3 separate regions of the Homo sapiens genome follow, and regions 1 and 2 are each reported to be linked to region 3. Evidence: microRNA targets listed by miRTarBase, many of them from high-throughput screens and not tested one by one. Region 3 holds a microRNA gene; each other region holds the end of a gene's coding sequence.
The links. Region 3 holds the annotated microRNA hsa-miR-365b-3p (UAAUGCCCCUAAAAAUCCUUAU, at 2,412-2,433, shown strand). A microRNA usually pairs through its seed, bases 2 to 8, with sites in the 3' UTR of a target mRNA and lowers its output. Matches are read on the target gene's strand: a 7mer-m8 pairs with bases 2 to 8, a 7mer-A1 pairs with bases 2 to 7 and ends in A, and an 8mer does both.

Region 1 (4,000 bases), not on the chromosome of region 3:
TAGGTTTTTCTTGGATATGCTGAGGGAAGGGAAGTTTGCATAGTTTATGAATAGAGATTGTCAAGCAAATAACCAGACATTTTTGAAACATGCTAAAATTAAAAGAACATTTATTACAGCTTCTTAATTTTGAAAAATGCAAACATTTTTAAAAACTCAAAACTACTACTTCCTACACTTGATTGCCTAGCCCATTTTCCCCTCCAGTTCTAGAATTTTTATAAACGAGGCTCTTCTTCGTTTTCCCTAGGTCAGAGGAATCGTGAGAAGACTGGAGAGAGTAATTGTTGTGTAATCCTGTAAACACTGTCTGCCTAGTGTGATGTGATATAGTCTTTGTCTTTCATGCTGCTGGGACAGAAAAGACCCGACATTGCTTCAGAAACCGTTCAGAACAGTCTGCCTGTAAACACATGGAACTGAATTACCACATGAACACTGTCATCTTTTCTCATGAAAGTAAAAAGAACCAAGAACATTTTTCACTCTGATTTTTTATTTCTTGTATTTTTTGTTGAGCTGTTTTAACACATATTGGTTTTTGAATGCAGTCAATCTCCAGGGGAAAAGTTAACAAGTTATCTTTCGTAGCAGAAACCATTTTGCTGCCACAAAATTTTCATCATCAGAACTAATAAATCAAGTGTTCCAAATACAATTTGCATTAAAAAGATTGGCATTATTTTCCTCATCAGCAGAATTTATAACAGTGTGTGGTATCTAGAAATACTTATATATACAATTCCACACTGGAAGACACTCAGCAATTAATGAAGTTAATTACTGGGCCAACTTGAGAGGAAAAAATGGAAAAGAAACTAAAATGTTGGGTGAATTCTACCAAAGTCAGCCGTGGTGGCTGCACTGGCACAGAATACTAAACTGAGTGTGACTATTTTCACTGCAACAAATGAAAAAACAAAATGTGCCTGTTTAAAGCACTCAGTAGAGGGCTGATGAAACTAATTTTTTTTCCTTTAAGACATGCACTCTTGAGTCCTACAGTAACTGAGTGTTTGTTTAGACAGCACAAGAAGGGGTGAGAGTGCGTCTCCTAGCCTTAATGTGGGAGGGTAGTTTCAGTCACTCATCGGCTTTCATTATTGTGCAGAAATATTAGAAAACCTCATTGATCAATTTTATGTATTTGAATATCAGCAAATTGAAATTTTCCATAATTATCATTAATTTGTAACCACATCCAGTGTCATGCTTACTCCTTAGAGTTCAGATGAATTCTTAAAATTAAAAAAAAACTCCATAGTACTAATTTTGTTTCTTTATATAGTTTGCGTTTGATATTAGTGCTTGCAATTGTATTAAAGTCAAAAGCTGATTTTTATGGCATACACAAGAATGCCACTTTTTCTTTTATTTCATACCAATAATTTAAAGATTGATATGCTAAAAACAATTTGCACAGCACTAAAGCATGAGCTACTTTCATCTAAACCTGTAAAAATATGAAAGATTTTTATATTTTTTCACTGGGAAGAAATTCTTCCTGGATGAAATTACAAATATGTGTAGAATATATTTAATAAAAGACTTATAAAATACCTAACTACAGGACTTAAAATATAGATTGGCGCGTAGTATACAGAACAATATTCCATATAAATAAGTTTAGCCTTTATAAAAATGAAGTTGCAGGCTGACATTACATTCTGTACTAAGTGTCAACAGCCCTTACAAACATTAAATGTAAATGGTTTCAAATGGTCAGCGTTGTTTAAATGTAATCATGTTATTTTATTCATTGTTAATGCTTTGATGAAAAGGCTTTATATGCAGTAGATCTACGAAAATATTGTTCATACTGATCAGAATTAAATTTGTATAGAGCAGAGTTTTAAAATGAATGTAAATAGCACTAAACGTTTTCTTTCTGCAACCTGTACTTACAGATTCTTCCTGTAAACTAAATAAAAAAAAAATGATAGTGCATTTTGGTGGTAATTTTAAAGGTCTTGATTAGGTCAATAATTGTTTAAGCACCGTCTCATTCATGTTTTCTACTTTCATTTCTTAAGCTTTTAAAATTCATTTAATTAATATTCTGTTGTTGTTTTGGGGAGTATTCCCAATGTATCTTTGATATTTAACCTGGTTAATTTGTGGACAGTCACAACAATGGATAGAATTATGTAGTCTCCGTTATCACTAAAATGTTATCTTCAAGAGATGTTAAATATTTATATGCTTTGTTGACTAGCTGAAATGTGAATTCTGTTAGTGTTGACTAAAGAATCTGGTAGTTGCTTAATTGGGCAATTAAACAATTTATGGCTCTATTTTGTAAAACAAACTACTGGTAATTATTTTTAATACCTATTTTCATTCTGATTACTCTTTTTTTAAGTTAAAGACTATCAGTTAATTAAGATTGAGTTTTTATGATGGTTAAAAATAATTCTCTATTGGTTTTTCAATATATTTTTCTGTGTGTTCTCAGATTATATATTTCCCTCAATTTAGAGTTTGCTAAGTGAAATAAACTGGTTCACTAGTAGAGAAAGAATTACGTCGCTTAATACCTAATATCATAGTTGTACAATATGAAAAAAAAGAATAAAAAGTAGCAGTAAAATTATATACTGAAAACACCAAAAATTTAGATGCCTTAATAGTATATACGTGAAATACTCAGCTGTCCCTTTAAAAATAATTCCTTGGACTGCCTGGTGGTTAAAATACGATTCCTCATATCCAAGGCTACTTTTGAAGATCCCTCTGCCAAAAATATAGCTCACTTATCTAAAGGTGAGAGCTGCATAGATCCAGTAATGTACATAAAGCCTGAATGATGAGCCTATGTCCCTGCCTAACGCTGGTGTCTCACTCATCTCTTTTACCTAAATTGTCCTGAACTTTGTTAAGTGTTCTGGACAAGGCCAAGCTTTTCTTTATTAAAACCTCAGCATGTCTCCCTGATCTGAACTATTTGCTTTCTCTTCAAGATAAGTTGTATTTTACCATGGAAAAATACAGTATCTAACATTACCATTCACGTTAAATGAAGTTTCCTCATAACATTTATCTTTAGTTTTATGAAGTCATCGTGACCAATGTTACAGTAATTTCTGTTAGCTGATTGTGGTAAACAATGTTTAATGTGAAAAGAAATTAAAACTTTCTTCATCTGTTGTAGAATATTTCTCTTCTTTAAAATGGCTTCTATTCATAATTCTGGTGTATTTGCCTATTCTTTATTTCACTACTGTTTATGTCTTTTTTTCTTTCTTCAGTTAATGATACTCTTCAGTAAAAATCAACATTGAGCCAGCCTTTGCTATAGTTTAGCAAAATCAAAGGGAAGTATCAGCCAAAATTTAATATGCCTTCATACCGTTTTTATTTGTAACTTTTTCGAGCATTCCAGTTTGTTTTCCATTTTTGTGTTATAATATGGTCACTTGTTAGCCAAATGGAGTGATTGGGGTGGAGTGATTGGGGTGGGGGAGAAGGCACATGACCTATAATTACAAACACAGCTATAATTGAAACACAGCTGCAGGCTGTGCTGGAGTCTAGGCACAGTTTTTGTGGCCAGGGTAGGGTGGGGTTCTTGGGTGTGAGCAGTGGTAGTTGGGTGTGACTCCTGGCTTACCCTGACCCCCTGCCAGTTGGTGTGTTTCCTTCAGAAGGCAGTGGCTTCTATGAGGCTTTTACACAGGAGGTGGTTGACTTCTGAAAGAGATCATGGATAGAACTAAATGAGAAACACTTAGTTCTTAAATATCAGAGTTTAAAGCAGTACTGAAATGTGAAAACCAATTTCACTTACTACATTATTTTATAGTCTTCGACAGTGATGTCAGATGTTTGTCTTTTAATATTTTTCATATTCCTCTTTTTCAAAATGACAGCTTTCAAGAAATATGGAGTAGGCATAGTAAATTCCCATTTGGGGAAAGGAAATGCCCATCTCTTCCACGTGAGTCAACCAATAAAAAAGGAGTTGGGTAAACACATTTTCTAAAATGGCTCTGGAAGTGGT
Region 2 (4,000 bases), not on the chromosome of region 3:
TTTGTTTGACTACATTATTCTTTGTATTTAGGTACCTAGTAGAACTGGGTTGTATCAAGCCGCTCTGTGATCTCCTCACGGTCATGGACTCTAAGATTGTACAGGTTGCCCTAAATGGCTTGGAAAATATCCTGAGGCTTGGAGAACAGGAAGCCAAAAGGAATGGCACTGGCATTAACCCTTACTGTGCTTTGATTGAAGAAGCTTATGGTAAGATGCTTTGGTTGAAGAAGTTTATGGCCAAGAATGAATTGGGTCATAGATAGAGTTCAGTAAAAACAATACTACTACTGCTAGGCACTGGATGAAAAGAGGACTGTTAGGAAATTGCTGCTTCTGCAGACTGGATATTACTTGCATATGTATTTAAGATGTCAGTTTATAATACTAGCTTTCAGATGTAATCCCAGCAGTCATTTCTGTGCTATTATAAAATACTTATGAGATACAAATAATCTTTCTTTACATCAAGAACAGAGATATATGACAAAATATAGTTTAGGAATATATAGTTATGGAATTTCCAATATTTATTGAAGTTTTCAATAAAGATTTTCCTTTATTCTTCATTTTAGGTCTGGATAAAATTGAGTTCTTACAGAGTCATGAAAACCAGGAGATCTACCAAAAGGCCTTTGATCTTATTGAGCATTACTTCGGGACCGAAGATGAAGACAGCAGCATTGCACCCCAGGTTGACCTTAACCAGCAGCAGTACATCTTCCAACAGTGTGAGGCTCCTATGGAAGGTTTCCAGCTTTGAAGCAATACTCTGCTTTCACGTACCTGTGTCAGACCAGGCTACCCAGTCGAGTCCTCTTGTGGAGCCCACAGTCCTCATGGAGCTAACTTCTCAAATGTTTTCCATAATACTGTTTGCGCTCATTTGCTTGCCTTGCGCACCTGCTCTCTTACACACATCTGGAAAACCTCCGGCTCTCTGTGGTGGAATACCCTTCTAATAAAAGGGTAACCAGAACGGCCCACTCTCTTTTACGGAAAAATCCCTAGGCTTTGGAGATCCGCACTTACATTAGAGTTATGGGAATATACACATATTAATGTGGCTCCCTTTTTCTTGTGGGGGAATAAAAGAGGACTCCTCCTCATTCCCTTTAACATGGGGGAAAAAACTGACATTAAAAGATGAGACTAAATCTTTATCTTGAATTTTACACAACTACTTACGACAAGGGAGATGTTTAGACCTGTTGTGTATACTTCAGAGTACTTTTCATGAGTTCTTCCACAGTGAACCCTTGGATTACCTGGTGGCTTTTTCTAGCCAGATTTGCATTAATCCTTACTGAGATTGGATGGTTTTCTTTCCTCTATTGGCGCCATTCTTCAGATATTAAAGTTAAACCATCCACTCCCTCACCTTCAGCCTTCAGTGAATGTGCTTTCTAGTTGTCAGGAATGCTGAAGAATTAACACTTTGACTCCTAAATGTGATACTGGTTTGTAGATTCCCTTAGAGCAGAAAGGAGAGGGGCACATATTAATTTGTATCGCTTTTGCTTCTCTTTGGTCTTTTGTGTCTTAGAATTTGGAAGTGGTTCATTTCTGTTGCTGGTATGAGGATTTCGAATACTTAGTAATCGAAAACCATATCCTGTAATTTAATAAAAAAAACTAAGGACGAAAAAACCCTCCAATTTTCCCAAATGCAATCAGTGTAACTAGGGGCTGTGTTTCTGCATTAAAATAAATGTTTCAGGCTTTGTGGTCCTGATCAAGGTCCTCATTAAAAAATTGGAGTTCACCCTAGGTGCTTTTCCCCTCTGTGACTGGCAGATAACACATACTTTTGAAAGTAACTTTGGGATTTTTTTCTTAGGTGCAGCTCGATTCTAATCTTTTCATGCTGCACACGATTCCTTTAATGTAGCATCCTTATCTGAAAGAAATAACCATCTTCTCAACATGACCTGCTTAACCCAAATAAGAACAGTGATCTTATAACCTCATTGTTTCCTAATCATTTTATTTCATCTCCTGCTAGTACTGTGCCGCTTCCCCCTCCCCCCACACAAAATAAAAACAGTATCTGCCTTCTGGCTCATTTAATGATGACTGCAATCTGTACCTGCAAATGGCGCTTCCAGTACTGTGTTCAGTGATCCACATTTGTGCTTGGACTGGAATGAAAAAATACGCTTAATTGCCAAGACAACTGCAAATGAGTTCAATACGACTTCTCGGTGCTAGTTGGCCATCTTGACTCAATGTTGGGATACACTACCAGAGAAGATTTTTTTGTTGATGTGCTGTTCAAAGTGAATTCTGAAGGAAAAGGTTGCTCACCTCTGTTTCAGAGCATACCCTTTTAAACCTTTTTAGACTTGTCCTCTTCTAGAATTCATTATAACCCCAAAGTGTAAAAACTATTTGGAAGTTGCCCCTGACAAGCTATTATACATCTCTGGTAAATCCTGCTGAATGTAAGGGATATTCAGAGCTTTTCATACCTCATCATGATGTTATTTAAGCAGCCAACTTATGTGACCTGATTTAAACTTTTAAAAAATCCACTTCATTCAAACTAGAAAGAGTCAAAGACAAAGGACATTTATCAGCCAAGAGTGTGACGCATTCTTCGCATCTAGTCTGTAGTAGTGTCTGTGCTCTGGGATGGATACCGTCTGATGTCTGTTTGTTATTGATGGCGCAGCCACTGCAAAACTAGTCAACTCCCATCTATAACTGTTACTTTTTCTAGTGCTGCTTTGTGCTGAGAGAACATTTTAGTTTACTGCACTTGACCTGTAAAAGACTGATTCTTTGTAATTTTAGGGATAAATTAGGTGGTTAATTTAAAGAAGAAATTTCAATGTTGCCTTTACATCACATTAAAATATAACTTCTTTCAGAAGGATAATAGAAGCACTGATTCATAGTAAAAATCTTGTTTTTAGCTTTGACTTTTTTGTGGCTGTTTTTTAAAATTGTAAATTACTAGTAACATGTCATTTCTATAGGATGTTTTAAATTATGTACCTTCCATTGGATAGTTAAAATAATTTCATTTTATAAGCCAATTTGAGTGGGAAAGATACAAAGCACACAGTTGTCTCCCCACATTAGGAAGAGTAGTGTGCATTCAGACATTCGGAATTTTTGCTAGTAGTTGGAGATGTTTCAGTGAGTGAATTAAAACAAAGTCTATTTAACTGACGTGATCTATTTTGTGTCTAAAACAGAGGAATTTATCTTGTCCTAGAAGTTCATGAACTATAAGATCTAAGTTTTTTTTTCTTTTTTAACAATAAAATGATTTTTTCTTAAAGTATCAAAGTTGGAATTGGCTAAAAGTGAAGTAGCATAACTCAGATATGTTGGAACTTGGTACTGAAGCAGGCTTTTTGGTAACAGAAATGACATTTTAAGGGGTAACTGTATATCCTGTTTTTAGTTCTTTGCCTCTCAGATTCTGTTAACTTAGTTTAAATTCACTGAATACCCTACCACTAAGGCGTTGCTCATTACAAAAGCATGTTAATTTCAATACAGGAAAACTCTTTTGTAGTTTTATATATGGATTGGGGAAAGTGACTTTGTTTTACTTTTCCTTTTTATTCCCCTCCATCCTCCAAACTTCCAATCTATATTATTTGTAATGAGAACTTTGGTGGGGGAAAAAAAGCATTAAGAGAATTTTGGATGTAAAGGCATCTGGTATCTGATGGACCAGCAGGTAGATGTGGTTGGATTGAGAAATTTTGGGTAAGGTAGATGATAGAAGAAAGAGATTTTAGGAGACACAGTTCTCTGTGGAACACTTTCTTTCATGTTCCTGTAACTAATTGATCAAGACCCTTTTAAACGCTTATCTTTGTCAGTTCCGCTTTTGAAAAAACTATTGCCCTAGGATTGTTTCTTCCATATGACAGATGAAGGTTATTGGCTCTGAGTCATTTTTGGCATTATCGTCACAGATAAAAAGATTGGCAATTAATCTCATAAAAAATCTGAATTATTCCAGATTGCTGCCGATTTT
Region 3 (4,152 bases):
GTGGCTGGTTGCGCCTAAGGTTAGCTGTGCGGTGTGGTATGACAGTTTTCTCAGAGATGTGCAAAAATCTAGGCTCTCTTGCTGGAATCGTGTGAGATCAGTGCTGGGCCTGTTGGCATTGGCATTTGTGCCCAAGACAGCCCAGACCTCTGCCAGCCGAGGCCCAGATGTGGCCTCAGAGCCACTACTGGTGCCCAGACAAGTCCAGACAGGTGCCTGGGGGTCTTTCCTCCCGAGACGAAGCCTGCAGCAGTTCAGCCAGAAGATGGGGTATTTGGCTCTCAAAGTCAGCCTCCCCAGAGACTCTGCAGGGTTTAATAGCCTGGTGACCCTGTGGGCTCTGGCGAGGGCAGAACCCCACTTTGCTTTCCAAATGCTCAAAGGGGAACAGATGAGGCTATCCCACAGGCTCAGAGCAAATCTGTCCTGTGTGAGTGCAAACGTGGTTCTAGAAGATTCAGAGGCAAAGCTGAGCTTTTGCAGCCCAGCCCCAAGCCCTTGCTCTCGAGCACCAGGGCTGCGATCCTTCGACTTGGGGTGGGCCTAGGAGGCGTAGCTCCCAGCCAGCAAGACAACACATAACACATCTGAGTTACCGTGCATGTGTTTGCTGGTCTCTTCTCCAGCTCCGTGAGGCCTCCCACCTGGGAGCTGAGCCTTTTGCTTTGATCAGGCTGGGAGGAAAACCTAGGCCAGGAAGGGCCGGGCTGCAGGCTGGAAGTGGAAAGAAGTGGGCCAGGTGGACAGAAAAAGGGGCCACCAACTAAGCCACCTTGGGGGTCGGCCCAGAGTGAGAACTGGGCTGGCATTCTGGGTTCAAACACACAAGAAAACTGTCTGCAGCCTCTCTGCCCTGGCACCAACATGTGCCTGCTCCAGGAAGTTGCACCCAGCCCTGAGTCAGCCAAACCCGTGGGACTCCCATTTGGCCCCAGTAACTGGACTCCAGGCTACCAAAGGCCTCGTGGGTTCTCGATCGTATCTTAGAATGGCGTTAAAAGGTCCAGACCCGGCACCTGTAGGCCATGCCGTATTTAGCCCTAGGTTCACCCGGAGAATATTTTAGGTGCTACTTGAAAGAAGAGATCTGGGCCCTAGTTGCCGGCTGTCACATGGCAAGGGTAGAATCGCTCCCTCACAGACCTGGCCGAGATGGCCGGGTGCTCACTGGTACAGGTGCCCAGAGTCCCTGCCAGAGCTTCGGGGCCATGCGACGGGTGCCAAGGAGCCAGCTAGCGACTGGGGCGTCGGTTCTGTGTGGGGATGCCTTTTCACCCCGTTCTCAATCTGAAGGCAGTGAATCCACTTCCATTCACAGAACTCACAGAGGCCTCTCCTCTCTGAGATGGCCCAGTGTGATATCCCAGGCTGCGTAGTAAGCTCCTCCTCTGGTGTCAGCCATGTGGAGGGGTTAACCCTTTCCTGGCTCTGAGGGTGCTGGCTGGCACAGGGGGCACCCACCTGCAGGGCCTCAAAGGTTATATGCCTTGGGGAAGACACCCTGAACTCCTTAGTCCTCAGATCTTAGTGGCTGAACCAAGAGATGGCACCTGGGACCTTAGCAGTAAAACCCGTCCCCTTTTTTTTGAGACAGTGTCTTACTCTGTTGCCCAGGCTGGAGTGCAGTGGTGAGCACAGCTCACTGCAGCCTGAACTTCCTAGGCTCAAGCCTCATCCTCCTGAGTAGCTGGGACTACAAGCACACACCACCACACCTGGCTATTTTTTGCAGAGACTTGGGGGGGGTCTCACTGTGTTGCCCAGGCTGTTCTCAAACTCCTGGCCTCAAGCAGTCCTCCCACTTTGGCCTCCCAAAGTGCAGGGATTACAGGCGTGAGCCCCCACGCCAGCCGGTTTGCCCCTTTTGCACCACCAGCGATAACCACTCAGCTCCCCTACCCAAGCCTTAGTCCTTCTGTCCGTGTTGTGGAAACCAGGTATTTTCATCAGCATTTCCAAGGGGACTAAGTTTCTCCCATTCCAGAGGAGGAGGTGTTGAAGGATAACTTAGATCATTAATGAGGGTCTGGAACAGTCATCTGAAGTTTGGGGGAAACGTCACGTCTCCTATGATGCGCCTGGCTTTAGGGAATAATCCTTGTATCCATTTTGGGAACCTGCTCTGGGATTCCAGATCTGTGGTTTTCTGAGCACGTCTGTGTGGAAGCTGCTGCACTGAGACCTATTTAGCCAATTATTGAGAAGATGAGGTCCCTTTCGTGAGTCTGCACGGAGCCGCCGTACACCATGAAAGCGCTCACTTGTTTAAAGTTTGCTCTAACTTTGTACATTTTTTCCTTTTTAGTTTTGGCTCTTGGTGCTCTGAGAGCTACCACTTCCTGCCAGCTGGTTCGTTACCGCAGGGAAAATGAGGGACTTTTGGGGGCAGATGTGTTTCCATTCCACTATCATAATGCCCCTAAAAATCCTTATTGCTCTTGCAGTATTCCTCGGGGGTCCCTGGGCCAGAAAGACATCAGCTCGGAGTTCCTCCAGCAACTCAAAGAAGAGAGAAAGCTGTTCCCCAAACTCTTCCGCTGTAGCGCCTTCTGGGTCCCTGGTAGATGCCTTCTTGTGCTCAAAACCGGTTATCACTGTGAAAAATTGAAAGACGCCATGCGCAGACACTGGTTGCTAAACGTGCTTTTGCCCTCCAGGGGCAGACGCTGAGATCCGGCCTGGGAAGGAGTACAGCTGTGGCTCCCCATCAGCGTCAGCATTTGCTCTGGGGGGTTGTAGGGGGAGGTAGGGAAAGCGGAAAGAAACAAGTGTTACCTGTTTGACGAGGCCTGGTCCTTGCAGCCAGGGCCTCCGGGATCATCGCCTTGGCAGGGGGCCCTGGGGCAGTCCTGGCTTTCCTGCTAGCTCCCTGAGACAGAACACTTTCCCCGCTCGCTGCCTCAGTTTCCCCATACACCAAGGGAGGGGCAGCACCCCCTGCTCTGGCTTCAAAGGGTTCTTGGATGTAGCCAATGTTATATATAAAAAGCTCTAACGTTGTATAAGCTCTGAAGGTGCTTTGAAAATTGGAGAGTCCATGCATTAAACATGGAAGGTAATAATATGAATACACACAGAGGAATTCATGGGTGGGGAGACGGCAGCCCAGCACTGAGCCTGGGTTTCTGGGATCAGCCAGGCCTGCATTCCAGCCCGAGCTCTGCGCCTCTCTTGCTGTGTCACCCGGGACAAGTGAGTCAGTCTCTCTGAGCCACCAGCTCCTCAGGCATGAAACCTGTAACTCAGACTCCCAAGTCTGATTTGCACATCTCTGATTTTAAGCGGCGCCGGCTAAAGGTGAAAATTATTCTAGTAGGTATTCTTTGCACCGCTGATTTGTACTTCAGGCAATTGGTTGGTTTTCCATTTAGGGTCGGGAGACAGGGGCCCTTTTTTTGTCCATCAATTGATGTCAGTTAAACAAAAAAGAGTGGGTGTTTTGGAAGAAAAATATTAAGCAACTACAGCTGCCCTGAGGATGGGACAGAAATCAGAAAGTCGTGTGTAAAGTTTCAGAGGTCCACTTTTAGAGAATTCTTGTTTATCTCAGGGATTTTCCGCACTCCTGTAGTCGGTGTGGGGAGGGGTGGGGGGAGATGGGGGAGTTGCCAGTTCAGATCTGTAGAGGGCTCCAGCATGACAAAACTGGGTGTCACACATCTTCCTTTTGGGGGTCGGGAAACCACCCTTCCCTGCTCACCGACACCACTGGGACCCCTCACCCCCCCACTCCTGCATTGATCCATAGCTCAGATTTCTCTCTCATTTTAGGGTCACGATGACTCAGCACCCTCCTTTCTGGCCAGGGCACCTCCCTTGGCCTCTAGGGGCACTTGCCTGACAGGCCTCACTGTGCCGGACCTGGGAGCCAGCTGCCCACCAGCCCCCTGGGACTCTGGTTTTGCAGGGAAACCATGGGTGATCAGTCCCAGCCGGCAGGGGCCAACTGCGGTTTCACTTTCTGCTGCATCATGGGGTGGGGGGTGGCAGCGGGCCCCCGCTGGCCAGCTAGAGCAGGCACTGAGAGGCCTGCAGACAGCTGCCGGCCCTGCTGCCAGAACGCACCCCCCACCCACCCCCTGCAGCCTGCCAGGATGGGGGCTGGGCTCTCAGGAGCCCCTTAAATCTTTCCACCTGCACAGTGTCGGGGAC

Region 1: miRTarBase lists UBL3 as a target of hsa-miR-365b-3p. Seed matches in the 3' UTR shown: 7mer-A1 at 676-682.
Region 2: the mRNA of KPNA1 is a reported target of hsa-miR-365b-3p. Seed matches in the 3' UTR shown: 7mer-A1 at 3,923-3,929.

What each region holds. Positions count from the first base shown.
Region 1 is chr13:29,763,558-29,767,557 of GRCh38, reverse strand. It overlaps UBL3 (ubiquitin like 3), which reads left to right. Exons shown (of 5, transcript NM_007106.4): 5 at 251-3,187. The coding sequence ends at 303. Among named protein-coding and RNA genes, the nearest start is that of UBL3, 85 kb to the left of the region's middle.
Region 2 is chr3:122,423,748-122,427,747 of GRCh38, reverse strand. KPNA1 (karyopherin subunit alpha 1) reads left to right here. Exons shown (of 14, transcript NM_002264.4): 13 at 32-210; 14 at 576-4,000. The coding sequence ends at 763. The region is part of intron 1 of WDR5B-DT (WDR5B divergent transcript); the gene reads right to left. Among named protein-coding and RNA genes, the nearest start is that of WDR5B-DT, 9.5 kb to the right of the region's middle.
Region 3 is chr16:14,306,929-14,311,080 of GRCh38, forward strand. It overlaps MIR365A (microRNA 365a), which reads left to right and starts at 2,357; the gene lies at 2,357-2,443. All of the region lies in intron 1 of MIR193BHG (MIR193b-365a host gene), which reads left to right. RefSeq lists enhancers at 1-227, 228-912, 1,708-1,757, 3,644-3,938, 3,730-3,849 and 1 more and a silencer at 3,524-3,818.